Regions from separate parts of the Homo sapiens genome. Here region 2 is linked to region 1. A link means that fine-mapping ties the variant in region 1 to the expression of a gene that starts in the linked region. Tissue or cell type: whole blood. Region 1 holds a variant in brackets; the other region holds the start of a gene. All regions are shown on one strand. Distances are between the middles of the regions.

What was found. PIP is the estimated chance that this variant, and not a neighbour inherited with it, causes the effect.
Region 2: it holds the start of CES1, and the variant in region 1 is fine-mapped to the expression of CES1 in whole blood (GTEx, PIP above 0.99).

The regions. Positions count from the first base shown.
Region 1 is chr16:55,776,731-55,785,083 of GRCh38, reverse strand. No RefSeq gene overlaps it. Among named protein-coding and RNA genes, the nearest start is that of CES1, 52 kb to the left of the region's middle. RefSeq lists an enhancer at 4,742-5,941. The variant C/T (reference allele first, on the strand shown) is at 4,153.
Region 2 is chr16:55,828,272-55,836,271 of GRCh38, reverse strand. It overlaps CES1 (carboxylesterase 1), which reads left to right and starts at 3,176. Exons shown (of 14, transcript NM_001025195.2): 1 at 3,176-3,268; 2 at 7,298-7,505. The coding sequence starts at 3,217.

The DNA.
Region 1 (8,353 bases):
TCTAGCCTCACTTCTAGCAGCTTAAGGCTGTGTCCCTAGAATGACCGCAGCATCCTTAACATGCCTGCCTGTGGAGGCTCAACTCTGCCAGGATAATTTACTCTTGCTCCAGCGAAAACCTAGAGAAAAGCAGATGTCCCCTGGACCCAAATAGAGCAGTTACTTTAGAAAGCCTGCAATAATAAACCCTTTCTCTGTCGTTTGGGATGTGAATCTATCACCCAACCCTGTTTCCTGGGGGACGTGAGACCCTTCTCTTTGCAGTGCAAACATTCAAGGAGCTCACTCTTGATCTTCCCAGTCCCTGTGGAAAGAATAGAGCCTGACTTCAGTGGATTCTTCCTGCAGTCTAACGCATGGCTTCCTGTCCTAAAGATAAGAGGAGTTTGTTTCTGCCCCAGGTGAGCCAGGATGAAGAGATCCAGGTGGTCTAGTCACATGGACCAAGCCTCTCCCCACAGACCACAGTGTGTTTCCCTTGGCGCCCCTGGCTTATGAAACATCACCAGGCTTTTGTTTTGGGGATGTGAGTCCAGTCCACGCCGGAATATTTCCCCTATTGCAATCATATTACTGAATAAACCTGTCCTACTGCTTTAACAAGGGTCAGTTTTGTTTATCTTCAACTGGAAGGAGAACGCTTCTTTACTTCTAGAACTCAATTACTTTTTCCATTTATCTGTTTCCAACTTTTATTTTAGGTTTGGGGGTAACTGTGCAGGTTTGATCATGGGTAATTTGGGTCTCTGGAGTTTGCTGTATAGATTATTTTGTTACCAGGTATTGAGCATAGCACCCGATTAGGTAGCTTTTCCATCCTCATCTTCCTCTGACCCTCCACTCTCTTAGTAGACCCTGATGTCTACTGTTCCCTAGAAGTCAATGGTAACTCAAGAAGAAGCCACTTTCTTTGGATATTTTCAATGAGGTGATGAAGAGCATGAGTGATTTTCAGGGGAACTACGCACACCCAGCCCGAGGCAGGAAGCCGGGAAGCCCCCGACTGCCTCTCCAGACTCCTCAACTCCTTCCCCCATGCAGGCCCCCTCAGTTTTCCCATCTGCACAGTTATTTTCTCTACTGGTCCTCCCAGCACAGACACTTCAGGATTCTTCAACAGGAAGATAATCAGAGAGTCTGGGGAGAGGGGATCCCAGGGCACTGATATCCCGGTGACAACTGTGCCCTCCTGGAGCAGATTTCCATGGAAATGGTAACTCCTGCTGAAGGGAACAGCTGCCCAGGACTCAGAGTGTGGCTCGGAGAGGGAAGCACTTCTGGGACTAGAGACAGGAGGGCTGATGGTGGTGGGTGAGTCCCTCCAAGAGGCTTGCACCTTCTCACCATTGGAAGCATCCAGCCAAACTCCTGCTTGTTAATTCCGACCATGTAGGGGACAGTGTGGAACTTCCTTTCAGCTTGAAGCTCTTCAGGTGTTTTCAGCAGCACCACCCCATCAATCACGGTGGCCAAATAGTGGTGACTCTGGGGGAGAGAGAAGTGCAGTGCCTGTGATTCCCTCCCTAGTCACACCCATGTCCCCAACTCTGCCTGTCTGAGGGTGAGACCAGTACCACAGACCGGCATGGCCATGGGCCACGGCTGCACATACTCAGGGTCCTAACTTAAGGGGGTAGGCCTCTGTGACTCAGGGGTAGAACTTCAGGCAGAGGCTGACACTGGTCAGATGATGAGGAGAGGAAGAAATCTTCACTCATATTGAAATACATGTATTATCTATGTAAAATTACATGTCTGTATATTTCAATTTGAAGTGCATGCATTTTCCTCTGTGTGTCCACAGTTGATTTTCGGTAGTCCTGGCAGTTGCTTCTGATAAAGCCCCCATGAGTACTGAATTAGAGAATACAGGGTCATCACTCAAGGGGGAAATACTGGGTTAGGTTTTTGCAAACCTCTGGCCACAACATTTTCATCAACCTTCTTTTATGTGTGGGTTTCTGTTGAAAGAGACTTCCACGGCTCCATCCCACACAATAGGTGTTACTTTAGCCCTTTCTATCACAGCCTCATGTATGAATCAGCCAATTTCCTTCTCCTTTTTCTGAATGTGCTATTATGTGGATTTTTCAACACCAAATGCACGGCCAGCAGCACTGCAGCTCCTGCCTCATCCAAGCTTGTCTCACACAGGCACCTTCCCCGTAAGGCACAGCACAGCCTGTTTAGCTCAGGAACGCCAGACAGCAGCGCTACTCTTGGGTTCGCTCTAAACAGTGACATCACTACAAAAAGCACAAAAATGCAGAACACACGGCACTAAATAGACTGCGAAGAGGACACTTGTAAACATCAGAGATGAAACAAGAAGACAGGGGTTGCCTCACCAGATCTCAGATGGAACATGCCCATCATGCAAATCCAGCTTCCCCTGCTCTGTGCCTGCCTGTGTGACCATGAAAGTGCCACCAGTATCGATTTGGGGTTTATAAGGACATTTTAGCAAGCAGGTGAATTTATAAACGCAAAATCCATGATTAATGAGGAAGAGATTATGCTATCTATCTGTATTTAAACAAGAGCTGTTATTGATCCATGGGTGGCTTTGAGGAAGTACTGAACCCTCATCACTCAAGGAGCCTAGACTAGGACGAGATTCCCTATTAGAGAGAAAATTATGAGTAAAAGAATCAGTGATTAACTCACAGTATATTGATCCATGTCTTAATTTTAGGTTTTACCTTTAATGAATAATTTTTATGTGGTCACAGATTAGAGAGAGTCTGACTCACGCGTTGCCATCAGGGCAGCTGGTTCTGGGTACAGTTATATTTCATATTTAGTCACAATGGTGTAGTTGCTAAGATAGAGCATGGACTTTGAAACCAGATTAACTGCATCTGAAGCCTGGCTCTGCTACTTACTGGCTAGGAGTTTCACCTGTTTGGGCCTCAGTTTTCTCATCTAAGAGGTGAGTTATTGTGAGGATTAAATAGCTGAACACATGTAAAATACTTAGCACAGCACCTGGTGTCTGGAAAGGCTGAATAACTGTTAGGTATTACTTGTTAGCAAGGTTGCTGTGGGTCCCTCTCATAGACACCAGTCCTCTGTGCCATCTTCCCAGTTTCACGCCCCATGGGCTGTGTTTCCCTCCTGGATATCAGATGGAACTGGAAAATTCCTAGCCTTTGAGACCCTATGGCTTCCGGGACCTTTGGTCTGCCTACAAAAGCCAATGAATGACAAGCTAGTTCGGACTGCCTTGGGGGAGATGTTCTGAAAAGTGGACCAGACCTAGCTGGACAAGATCAGATCCTAATCCAACATGGCTGACGCACAGAACAGGATTGGGGTGCAAGTCTGGGTGCCTTGAGAGGCTGTGCAGTTCAGGCAGGGCTGCCGTGAGGGGCCGGAAAGAGGAGCAGCCCCTCTGGAAGGAAGATGCAGGGCAGACTACGTGGAGGAGGTGCCGCCCGCCTGCGGTGGGCTCTGGGCAGTGAATGGTATTGACAGGTGAGGAAAGGAGTGAGAATTTCTAAACAGTGGGAACCGCATGAGCAAAAGGACATAGGTGTCACTGTGCAGGGTAAATTCCAGAAACAACCAAGAGTTCTGGGCTTGGAGAAATGCTGTGGGGCAGGGTCTAGAGGGAGGGACAGGTGCAGAGCCTACCTTCTGCACAGTCTGGCACACAGTGTGCACGCAGGTGTGTTTTGAAGGACTAACTCCATGGAGGGAAGGGGATTTGTCTCATAAGGAAGGTCAGGCTTTTAAGAAGTGGGAGTGACGTGCTCTAACTCTGTTAAGGAAGGACAGTCTGGCTGCACCATGAGACGTGGAAATGGGGAGGGGAGGTGAAGTAGAAGAGGATAAAAGTTGAGGCAAGAGACAGGAGAGCCCCAGTTGGGCAGCAGCAATGCAGGAAGACTGCCATCAGCAACAATGACAAGTGATTGCTGTTGTCCACTCAGAGTTTGCAAGTGGCTGCCCTGTGTGGGCATAACCTTGCTTGTGTCAGAAAACTCAGGGCGTCCTCCACTCCTCTCTCTTTCTCACCCGCTGCATCCTGTCCATCAGCAAATCCTGTCAGCTATTCCTTCAAAGATATCCAGACTCCAACTACTCCTCCCATCCCCACTGCCACAGCCCTGTCTAAGCAGCCAGGAGCCCTTGCCCTTGCCTGGATTA[C/T]GGCAATGCAGTGGCTGCCCAGCTGGTCAACTGCATCCACTCTGCCCCTTTCCTACAGTCTATTTGAACACCGGAGGCAGAGACCTTTGTGAGATCTAAGAACATGTGACTCCTCTGTTCAAAACCTCCAAAGGTTTCCCATCTTGCTCTGAATCCAAATCCAAGTACTTTAATTGATCTCTCTCCCACTGCCAATTACCTCTTTAGCCTCAAGCCAGTCTGTCCCCACACTCGGTCCTCTCCAGCCAGACTGGCCCCTTCTGTCAGGGTCTTTGCAGTGACTATTCCCTCTGCCTGGAATAGGCTTCTCCAGGTTTCCTGACAGCTGGCTTCCTGCCTCCTCCAGAGCTTGGCTCAAATGCCACCTTCTCATTGAACCATTCCCTGATCCTGCTACTGAAATTGAAACCACCCACAAACTCTATCCCCTAATGCTGCACACCATCAAATGGAATACATACTTGATTTGCTTTTTTATTGCACTGTCCTTGCACTGTAAAGGAAGGTCCCAAGAGGGCAGGGAGTCTTTCTTTTTTCACTGTTATATCCCCAGCTCCTAAACAAGTCCTGGCACATAGGAAGTGTTTATTATCTTTGCTGAATGAATCTCATGTACTCCGCCCATGACCATTTAGGAGAGTGCTGCGGCCTCCAGGGAGGCAGCAGAGAGGACAGGATTGTAAGATTCGTCAGAGGTGATGTCACCAGAAACTGTCAACCCATTGGGAGGTGGGGGTGGGGGTGAGGAGATCAGGAGGATACTGTTGGAGTTTCCTGTGTGCTGGGAGGAGGCGAGTGTCCTTGGACTGAGATTTAGGCTTCCTCCCTCCATGGCTAATCATCGCTATTATCTCTGCCTCCTGAGAGTGGAAGATTCTGGTTCAGCCTTCTTCCATAGTGCCATTTTGGGGAGTAGAAAATGTAAAAAAGCAGGGGAGTGGGCAGAGCCCAGGGCACACAGAGGTGATGCCTGGGAGCACTGGACTGGGAGTCAGGAAAATAGGTTCCAGGCCAGCCACTAGTCTTCCTGGTTGTGTTACCCAGGTGAGTCACTACCCCTCTCTGGGCCTCGGCAACAAACACACAGGAGTTACTATAACCACCCGAGAGGGGATTCTTTCACTCACAGTTCATTGGAACTTAAAGGTGCTAAGACTCAAAACCCGTAATCCAGAAACAAAAGGTCCTTACCTCTTTGAGGTCTCCCTGTAAGTCCAGAGATAAGAATTTCTGTGAAGACAAAAGCAGAGGATGTGGGTGAGAGGCTTCCCAGGAGAACACTGAGCTGGGTGAGTGGGGCAACAGGGGTGTCAGGTTCTCCCTCCTGGTGCCAAGCTGGCTGGGCTGAAAGGAAGTGGGCAGGACTCTGGCTCTGCTAGGCCTAAGCACAGGGTGAAGGCATAGCAGGGAGGGGTGGGCATCAGCATGGGGAAGACAGGCCGGGGACTCTGAGCCAGGGTCGATGGAGCTCTGGAGAGGACCCCCGCTGGTTGAGGCTGCCTGGCCCCCCATCCCTCTCCCCTTCCTCTTCACCTGGGAAGAACTCACCAATTCTCCTTCAGAGACCTCCTTCTTCTCCCATCACTCCATGAATTCATATATCTATATGTGACCTGGGGTGCTCCATCTCCCTGAACATGAATATTAGTTCAGGGATGGGCATACACCCATGTCAATCCAATAGTTTACCCCAAAACTTTTGCAGGAATTATTTAGAAACAGGGTTTTTAAGCAGATAGAACATAAGTCCAGAGTGCTGTTGTCTTTAACCTTCAGAGGAGACACATCTACCTAAGAGTGAAACCAACACAGAAATGTGCAAAGCTGAAGGATAGAGAATGGTAGATTCTCAATAATATCCTATGATCATCTGGATCCAGCCATGCCTGAAGCCATCAACTCCTGAGATTTTCAGTTTACATGAGGATGCTATTGCAACACATTTCTTTTTCTGTTCAAGGTACTTAAGGGAGTTTCCTCATCTCCTATCAGAAAGCCCTGACTCATGCAAGCTCACTGAGACTCACCCTACCCCATGCTTCTCTTTGGTGTGTGTTCACCAAGATTGCAGTGACTGTAGTGTTGCATTGTAGTTCCAAGATCTGACCTGTGCTCCGGACGTAACCAGTGCATGTCCCTCCATTAAGGATTGAAGTCCCACTAGCCAAGAGTGTGTGTGTGTGTCTCTTTGTGTGTGTGGGTGTCTGTGTGTGTCTGTGTGTGTGTGTGTGTGTGCCTGTATGTGTTTCTCTGTGTGTGTCTATGTGTGTTTGTCTGTGTGTCTGCATGTGTGCATACTGGAGGCAATGCGTAATCATGGAAGCACTTCCACAAGATCTCAGAAAAACTCAAAAGGATGTTCCAGGATCTTAGGGATAGGTTTTCCCAAAGACTCAACTCTCCCCTTTTAAGCTGGGTCCTCTGATGCCACATGCAGAATTGCTGGAATATTTGCCTCCTTCCTGGCATTAGAAAACAGGTGTGTTTTAATTCCTTGAACACTTTGGTCACTTAGAGACTGAACCAAGACCTAAGCCCCAAGACCACATTGGACTCAACCCATGGAAACACAAGCAGAGTCCAGTGGTAGAGGCCGGCCCTGGGACCCAGGAGTAGCCTCAGGTCCAAAGAGAGAGTCCAGGCTACTCCTGAGCTTGGAATTCACACTCTTCTCCCTCAAAGGGAATAGTTCCCAACGGCCCTGGGTGCTGTGTCATCTGGGTGTTTGTCCTGCTGGGCTTCCCTGTGATGAGAGACTGCCACAGCCATCCATCAATCCTAAAGGTCCCCAGGTCCTAATATGTGAGGATGGCAGGGAGCAGGGAAGGCAGAAGATACTCTAGACCCGCAGGTGTGGGCTCTGTGTCCCACAGTGTTGCCTCTGACTAATTAGAACTGTGACATGGGGCAATTACAAAATTTATCTGTCTTTGTTACCTCTGTTAAAATGGGCACAATGATCTGAAAGCTGAATTTCTCAGGAAAGATAAGGTGGAGTCAGGGTTAAGGGCATGAACTCCTGAATTCCACTGTCTGGTCTCAAATCTGGCTCCTCCGCCTTCTCTGTGAAGCATCCCTGATTACTACAATGAATGCTTCCCCTCTGTGCTGCCACCATACTCAACCTGCGAAGTATATGAATGTATTTCTCTTTGGATAGTTCCTTGAGAGCAGGGACTATGTCCACTTCATGTCTGTTTTGCTACCTCTAACACCCACCCCTACATATTTAGCATGGATGGATGGATGGATCAATGGAGGGATGGATGGAGTTGGTCAATACATGGAGTACAGTTGAATTGAATGGATACATGAATAGATGGGTGAAAACTAGCAGACAGGCGATAACTGGATTGTTGATTTTGGAGGAATGGGTGATGGAGTTGAGATATAAGGTGGCTGGATGATCCATGAATGGTGGATGGATTGAAAATAGATACATAAAAAGTTACGAACAGGTTGATATTAGATTGATAAAAATAGATAAGTGAAAGCGATGAATTAGTGAACATACAGATGGATAAGAAGATCATAGTAGATGGATTAATGATTGAGTGGACAAATGACTATCCTAGAACAATAAATGAGTCAGAGTCTCAGAAAATATATGTAACTGGACCACCACCAGGTCTAATACAGACAGTTTCTAAGTCAACCAAGATAAATTGTGACATCTTTCTGAAAATCTTTGAGCTTAATATCTCCATCCCCCAAATTCAGCATGATGGTGTCCCCTGGGAATATGTAATGTTTAGTTTCTCAAAAATACATCTGAAAACAAGAATGGCAAAATATTAAATTTTCATCAAATAGTAAATTTGGTCAATTCTTTATCATGTTATTTTTTGACTTTCTTTTTATACATTTGTGCCATTTTACGATTAAAAAGGACAAATTAGATTCCCCATTCAGATACTGAGACTCCCGAGACTTGAGAAATTGTCCCAGGTAACTGTCCCAGGGCAAGAGGACCGCTGAAATGAAGAAGTCTGGGACCAAGTTTACAGTGTTTGGGCTACGGGAACAGGCAACCTACCATTTTCAATGTCGTCTCCAAGAGCTCCTCTTCCGTCTTCTGTCGCAGGCAGTGAACCATCACAGCTGAGGTGGTGGTTTTACACCCAGCAGTGATAGCAATTTGCTGCAAAGATCACAGGCAACAGAGTTCAAGAGTGAAGTCCCTTCCCTCCATCAACATGGA
Region 2 (8,000 bases), 51 kb before region 1:
AGGCACGCGCATGCGTGCACATGTGTGTGTGTGTGTGTGTGTGTTGTGCTGAGTGAGTGGGACTAGCCTTGCTTTCTATTTAGGAGGACCTCCCAATTTGTCCCTTGTGGATAGAGATAGGGATGCTTTTTATTAGCATGCAGTTTATCAGCCAGATTTCTGTCCTGGATAAAAGTAAGGGAGGAACCCTAAAGCTCAGGTCAACCTTTGTAGAGTCAGTTAGCTCTGGGGACTGATTCTCATGCTGTCAGAGCATCCTCATTCCCATCACAGAATGCCCCTCACCAGCCTGCACGTGGCTAGAATGAGTGCTAATGAGCATGCCTTTTTGAATTTGGGTCTCCAGAAGTTTCATTTCAGCTACAACTCATGGCCTTGGGCAAGAATCCATCAGCAGCTCTGGGACTGTCATGTGATTTATGGCTGCTGGTTGCCCAATCTTTCCTGATGTCAATAGTGGTGTGGCCTGGACAAGGGCAGGCTTGCCAAGTGACATTGGGAAAATAGAACATAGCTCCCCAGGTACCTGGTACATGGCTCCCATCTTTGTCCCTTCCTTCCTTCCTTCCTTCCTTCCTTCCTTCCTTCCTTCCTCTCTCTTTCTTTCTTTGTCTCTCTCTGTCTTTCTTCTTCTTCTTCCTCTTCTTCTTTCTTCCCTCCTTCTCCTTCTTCTCCTTCCTCTTTTTCTTCTTCTTCCTTTCTCCTTATTCTTGTAGAGATAGGGTCTTACTATGTTTCCCAGGTTGGTCTTGAACTCCTCTCTCAAGCAATCTTCCCACCTTGGCTTGCCAAAGTGCTAGGATTACCGAGCGGGAAGGGTTGCCACAGTGCCCAGCCTCCCCTGGCTATTTCTATCCCTTCAGCCCTACCATGCTAAGCCTGGGTCAATGAGCTGACAAGGCAATTTGCCTTAGATAAGGCTACTGATTAGAATATCTTCCTGATGTATAAAAGCAAGAGAAATGGCTGCCAGCCACCCTGTGCTGGAAGGCAGAAGCCTCAAGTTCTGGTTCTGACTTTGCCATTGAGTTGCTGTGTGACCTTAGGCAATCCCTCCTCATCTCTGGGCCTTAGTTTCTTTTGGGAATAAATAACGGAATTGAGTTGAGCCTATGTATTAGTCTACTTAGGCTGCCAGAAGAAAATATCACAGACTGGGTGGCTTAAACAACAGAAATCAATTTAAGATCGTGAGACAGCATTAATCTCACGGGGTTATTTTGAGAACTGAGATCCTGCATACAAAACTCTCGGCATAGTGTTTGCCACACAGTAAGCTCTCAGTAAATATTTGTCAATGAATGTATGAAGGAATAAAAGTGGAAAATGCAAATAAGTGAAACACTGACAAGATTACAGCCAGGAAATGGCTGTTGTAATTCTAATTAGATATATAGACTTCCAGTATTTTCCTATGCAAATAAAGACATATGTTACTACCAAAACGGGACCATATTATACCTATCTAGATTTTCAAAAATATTTCATTATTTTATTGAAATATAAGTCACATGTCATAAAGTTTACCTTTTTAAAGTGTACAATCTAGTGGTGTTTAGTATATTCCCAAAGTTGCACTAACATCATCACTATTTAATCCCAGGACATTTTTACCACCCCCAAGATAAAACTCATGCCCATTAGCAGTCACTCCTCATCCCCGTCTCTTTCCCCTTCCCCAGACCCTGTCAAACACTTTCTGTCTCCATGGATTTGACTATTTTGGAAATTACATATAAAAAGCATCATACGACATGTGGCCTTTTGTGGCTGGCTTCTTTCCTTTACCATGATGTTTTCCAGCTTCATCCACGTTGTAGCATGTTCTTCTTATGGCTGGATGATATGCCTCTGCACGCATACACCACACTTCATTTACACATTCATCAGGTCATGGACATGCGGGTTGTGCCCACTTTTTGACTAGGATGAATGACACTGCTCTTTGTGTACAAGCTTTTGTGTGGACATGCTTTCAGTTCTCTTCGGTAGACACCTAGGAGGGGAATTGCTGGGTCATATGGAAACTCTGTGTTGAACTTTTTGAGGAACTGCCTACACCGCACAACAGTTTATAACCTATTATTTTCTCCTTTCACAACGCATCCTGTCTTCATTGTTAATAAATAGCTGTGCACATCACTATTTTGAGTGAATACATCGTATTTCCTTAGCCAGCGGTACCACAGTGTGTTTAGTGAATTCCCTATTGTTGGACATTTAATAATCCCATGAAAGAGGCTTTGAGTGACTTCCTTGTGTCCCCAGCAGCTTGTAAATGACAGTTTTCCAGGTGTGCCCAGAGCACTCTGTATCCCCTTAATTTGGTGATTTCACATTGCCTTGACATCACCCCTACTGCTCCTCCACCCCATCTGTCTTGTCTACAATGGTGAGCCCCTTGAGAAGCTGAACCATGTCTTGAATTGGTCTTTGTATCCATTATACATGGCCAGGTGCCAAGCATTTTGGTAAATGTTCACAAAATGGATGGGTACTTGGATGGATGGATGATAACAGCCAGGGACTATGGGGGGACGGAGTTCATTTTTACATTCTGTCCAAAAATCCCTGCTTTGGAAAGTAGTGAGTTCTCTGACACCGATGGTGTGTGACAGGAGGCTGGACCAGTTGGCAGGATATTGTGAAGCTAATTCAGGCCTCAGAAAGGGGACTCGATGAAATTTAAGATCGCTTCCAAGCTTGAGAGCCTGGAAAGCTATGAAAACACAAGCCCTGGGAGCTGAGATATGTCCTAACTTACCCAGCTGAGCTGTGAGGTGTGAGTGGCTCTAACATTTTCCAGTTGTTTCTGAGGACCTCAGATCAAAGCTTCCCTTTGCCTAAAAGCATCTGCCTGCTGGTGTGGGCCCTTGGGGGCCGTCACAGTGCACTGAGGTTAGAGTCCTGCAAGGGTGAACCCTTATGTAACAAGTAGTTGGGCAAGTTTACAGCTCTCTGTAATCTGACAGTAGAGTCCAGACTGGTTTGATGAAAGAGGGTAAACTGTGGGTGGGCGTGGCCTGAGGCCCCACTAGAAGCCCAGGGAGATCTGAGGAAAGGGAGGGCTTTTCTGATCTCTCCCAATTAGAGGATTAGGCAATTGGCAGCGCAGGGCGGTAACTCTGGGCGGGGCTGGGCTCCAGGGCTGGACAGCACAGTCCCTCTGAACTGCACAGAGACCTCGCAGGCCCCGAGAACTGTCGCCCTTCCACGATGTGGCTCCGTGCCTTTATCCTGGCCACTCTCTCTGCTTCCGCGGCTTGGGGTGAGTCCTTCTGAAATCAAAATGCGGGGCACTTTTTGAAATCCTTGTTCTGGGCCGAGGTGGGCGCAGATGCGTAGAAAGGCAAAGACACAACAGGTCCGGCTCTGCGGCGGGGCACGACTTCCATATTAGGACTTGGACTTGGAGCAGCTGAGCCCGGCCAGCCTGGCCCGCGCGGAGACGCAGGGAGGGTGAACATCCTGAGATCGCCCTGTACTGCTCGCCCAAATGCAGGCCGACAGCCGGCCCACCTCAGGCCGCACACACGAGAAATTTAGGCAGCTCAGTTTGCTGTCCCTTAATTAGTCCCCTTACGGCTGGATCACGGAGAGCGGCTCAACATAATATTAAGAGCATCGACTCTGGAGCCAGAGTGCGTGGGTTCGAGTCCCCGCTGGGCGCTTCCTCGCTGTGTGTCCTTAGGCAAGGGACTGCGCTATTCCGTGCTTGGGTTACCCCCTCTCTGAAACAGAGGTGGCAGTGCTGCCTACCTCACTGGGCTTTGGTGAGGAGGAAATGGGTGGCTGTTTCTAAAGCACTCTTGGCAGCGCCTGGTATGTAGAAAGCACGAAAAAGGGATGGATAAATAAAGGCGCTGTTTAAAAACGTAGTGTATGAATAGAAAATTTGAGCTGTGGTCAGGCCACTATATCAGGACCTCTTGCCATTAAAAAGACAGTTTCTTACTCATGTTCTCAACAGGAGGGGGACACCAGTGCGCGGGGCACAAGGGGAAGCAGCAGAGCCTGGGGAGGGGACAGGGCGGATCTGAGGCCAAGGGGCTTTTACTGTGGCTTCCAAGGATAGAAGAGGAAAGGCAGGGCAGGCAGGCTGAGGACTGGCAAGTTGGGATACTTCAGGGGCTCTGGGGCACAGGGGCTGTTCCTAATTGTTTTGTACCTAGCCCTGGCATGATTAGGGCAGGTGGGTAGTGGCCAGGGCATGGCAACCCGATCAAAGAGGCAGTTGGGGTGTGGGCTCTGGGGTGGCTGGACCCTGGGAGGGAGTTTCTCCAAGGTCAACAAGGCCTCAGATGCCAGAGCATCAGAATACAGAAAGCAAAACACATGGTACATAGAGGGGTGCAGCGAGGGGCCTCGAAATACCCCCATGCCATTTTATAGACAGAGAAACTGAGACTCACACAGGGAAATGTACTTGCCCAGGGTCAACCCGAAAATCACGCCTAGGTCTGTCTCTGGGTCCTGAATCCTGACAGCCCAGCCCCGTCTGCATCCTGTCTTCCTTCTGGCAGCCTGACACTGCGAGAGCTCTGGAACTGTGGGGAAGGGCAGAGAAGAGAGGAAGCCTATTTGGAACTGAATGTTCCTTTACCTCTGGTTACTCCTGGCAATGCCATCCATTTCCTTCCTTAGGAAGACCATACAGGCTGCCTCCACTTCCTCAGTTTCCTCCTCTGTAAAATGGGCATGTTGATGCCTACCCAGCAAGGCTTATTTGAAGATTAATTTAAAAAACTGGAATGCATGCCTGGCACATAGTAGGTGCCCACCATGTTCGTGCTTCATATAACATCAGCAGCAACTGGTCTTGTTCTCACACTTGTTTCTGCCTCCCCCCATTCACCCACTTTTTCACCCTTGGCAATCTGGCTGCCATCCACCTCATCCTGTTGAAGGGAATCCCTGAGCTGAGCATGACCAGCCCAGTGGTTTCTTCTCTGACTTGACTCTCCTCCACCTCCCTGAAGTCCTCAGCACTCTTAGCTGGTTCCTCGCCCTCTTGCTCCCTGGGCTTCAAAGACATGGGAACGTTCTCTCTCCCCTATTCTGATGGATCTTTGGTCTTGGCCGTAGTGGTCCCTGTGTTTGACCTTTGTTTTTTTTTCTCTTCCCTCTCACACTGGCATCTTCAATGAAGCCATACACATCCACCGTATGTACCCTCACAGTCCAGGAGAAGATTCTGCCCTGCTCCCTCACCAGGCTTCCTTCCAGCTTTGAAGTGCGCTCATCCTGTGGCATCATCTTGCCTGGATATCCCACTCACATCTCCACCGAGCCTGTGTAAACAGGGATCCAGCATTACAAGCCAGCTCTTTGGTCTTCTTTCCCTTCCATTTCCCCCACCTCTGGTCAGGGACCAAGTCTTTTCTTTTCCTTTCTTTTCTTTCCCTCCCTCCCTCACTCCCACTTGCCTGCCTGCCTGCCTGCCTGCCTGCCTTCCTTCCTTCCTTCCTTCCTTCCTTCCTTCCTTCCTTCCTTCCTTCTTTCCTTCCTTCCTTCTTTCCTTCCTTCCTTCCATCCTTCCATCTTTCCTTTCCTTCTTTCCTTCTTCTCTCTCTCTGGAGGAGCCAGGATTACAGGCACATGCTACCACACCCAGCTAATTTTTCTATTTTCAGTAGAGAGGGGGTTTCACCATGTTGGCCAGGCTGGTCTTGAACTCCTGACCTCAAATGATCTGCCTGCCTTGGCCTCCCAAAGTGCTGGGATTACAGGTGATCCACTGTGCCTGGTCTCCAAGTCTTTCAAAATACCTTTTAGACATCATCATATTTCTACATATTTTTTCTTTTTTTATTTAAAATTTTAAAATAATTAAGATGGGGGGGAGGATTTCAGGTGAAGACCGGAAATCCCATACAGTGCTGAAAAGGTGGAAATCACCAAGAAAACAGGCCACATGTAATGCCACCACCCATTGCTATGTCGATAAACATGCTTCCAAGGAAGTTCATCTCAGTATTATTTGTAATTAGCAACAACAACAAAAGAAAAGAAGCTAAATATTGACATTGCAGGGTTGGCTATTAATAAGATGAGACATGGATGCTGTTGTGTAACTGGGCTTTCCATAATGGGTTTCCATTGTGATTGGATATTCCCCTTTAAGACCAAATCTGAATTGTTCTGTTCTGCTCTAGCCCCACACTTTGAGGGAGGTGTTGACGTCTTGTCTGTATCCAAAGCAGAGCAGCTGGGAGGACAAGAGGCTGGAAATCATTTCCTAGGAGGGAAGCTCAGAGAAACTGAGGTGACTGGAGCCAGATAGGACCTGAGGGGTGGGCAGCAAGATCAAGTGTCTGAAAGGCCACAGGCTGCAGATCAGATCAGGCCAGTATAGTCCCATGACAGGTAGAACCAGAACTGATGCGGAGGCTGTGGGAAATGAATTTCAGCTCAGTGAGGAAACATTGTCCGTGCTGCAAGAATGGAGCAGACCTGCCCAGGGCCACCAGAAGAATCTTCCTTGACCTGATCACATCCTTTATCTGGAACGGTTCCTGCTGCTTATTTGTCCATTAAAGAAAACTCAAGCGCTTAGCCTGGCATTCTAAGCCCTCCCTGACATGTGCGGTCTCATTCCAGGAATATTTTCCACTCCCCCCAGACTCCACCTGGTGCATGTGGGCCATGCCCCCTTCCCCAGGCAGGCTCTGCATTCTGCTGCTCTGAGCCTCAGCAAATTCCCTTCTCTCTGCTGTGTACCACTCTCTGCTTCTCATCTCCCCTCATTCAGTCCTCCCCTGCCGCAAGTCCCAGCTCCTCCATGATGCCCGCAATCAGAAGGCCTTGCCCCCTCTTCTAATTCCTAGACTGCCTTATGGGTACCTCTCCCAGGACATGGCCACTTCCTTCCCAGCTGTAGCCCCAGGTGTATATGTGACCCTTCCCTATAATGGTCAGTGCTTGTGAGAATATGGGACACCCCTTTTTCATCCTCTCATCCAGCATGCGGCTCAGTGCCAGGATTCTAATGGATAAATGTTTCCAGAGACTTCTAAGGGGGAAGCTAAATGTCTTGTTCTTTCCTAGTAGCTCTCCTTCTTGCATTTATTTTTAGCTGGATGTTTTTATGCCTCCAATTCTAGTTTGCCCATTAAACCAGCTCAATGGGTTAGGGAGGACATTGATCGTCATCCCTATTGTACATCAAGAGAAACTGAGGCCTAGAGGGTTTAGGTGACTTATTTAAGGTCACTCACTTAGAAAGCGGCAAACTCCACCTGGAATCTGGGTCCAGCCTTTTGCCTCTGATGCATCCTGATTTATTCTCCATGTCCAGCAGGGCATCCGTCCTCGCCACCTGTGGTGGACACCGTGCATGGCAAAGTGCTGGGGAAGTTCGTCAGCTTAGAAGGATTTGCACAGCCTGTGGCCATTTTCCTGGGAATCCCTTTTGCCAAGCCGCCTCTTGGACCCCTGAGGTTTACTCCACCGCAGCCTGCAGAACCATGGAGCTTTGTGAAGAATGCCACCTCGTACCCTCCTATGTAAGCTGCGGCATGTGTCCTTGGGGATGTTTACCTCAAAGTGATGCAGGAAGGAGTCAAGGCAGTCCCCTGACGGGCTGATCCTTTGCTCTGGACTCCTTAAGATCTTTGTAGATCCTTAAGAACATTCCAGAACTCTCACAGCATTCTGGAGTCCATTATTTAACACATGTTTATTGAGCACCTGCTGTGTGCCAGGCGTGTTCTGGGTTCTTGGGATCCATTAGTGAAAAAGCAAAGATCCCTAGGTTCCTGGAGCGTGCATTCTAGCAGGGGGAGACAGATAAGAACAATATGCAAATTACTCCGTGGATTATGTGATATGATAGAACAGGAAAAGTGCCTTGGAAACAAAGAAGCAGTTAAGCAGGTGAGGGAGATCAGAAGGAAGGATCCCATGAATTCTGCTGTCTTGAATTTTGACATAGTCGGGGAGAGGAGTGGGCCAGGAGGTGTGTGGGTGGCAAGTGTACTGAGGTGTCCACTCGGCAAGTG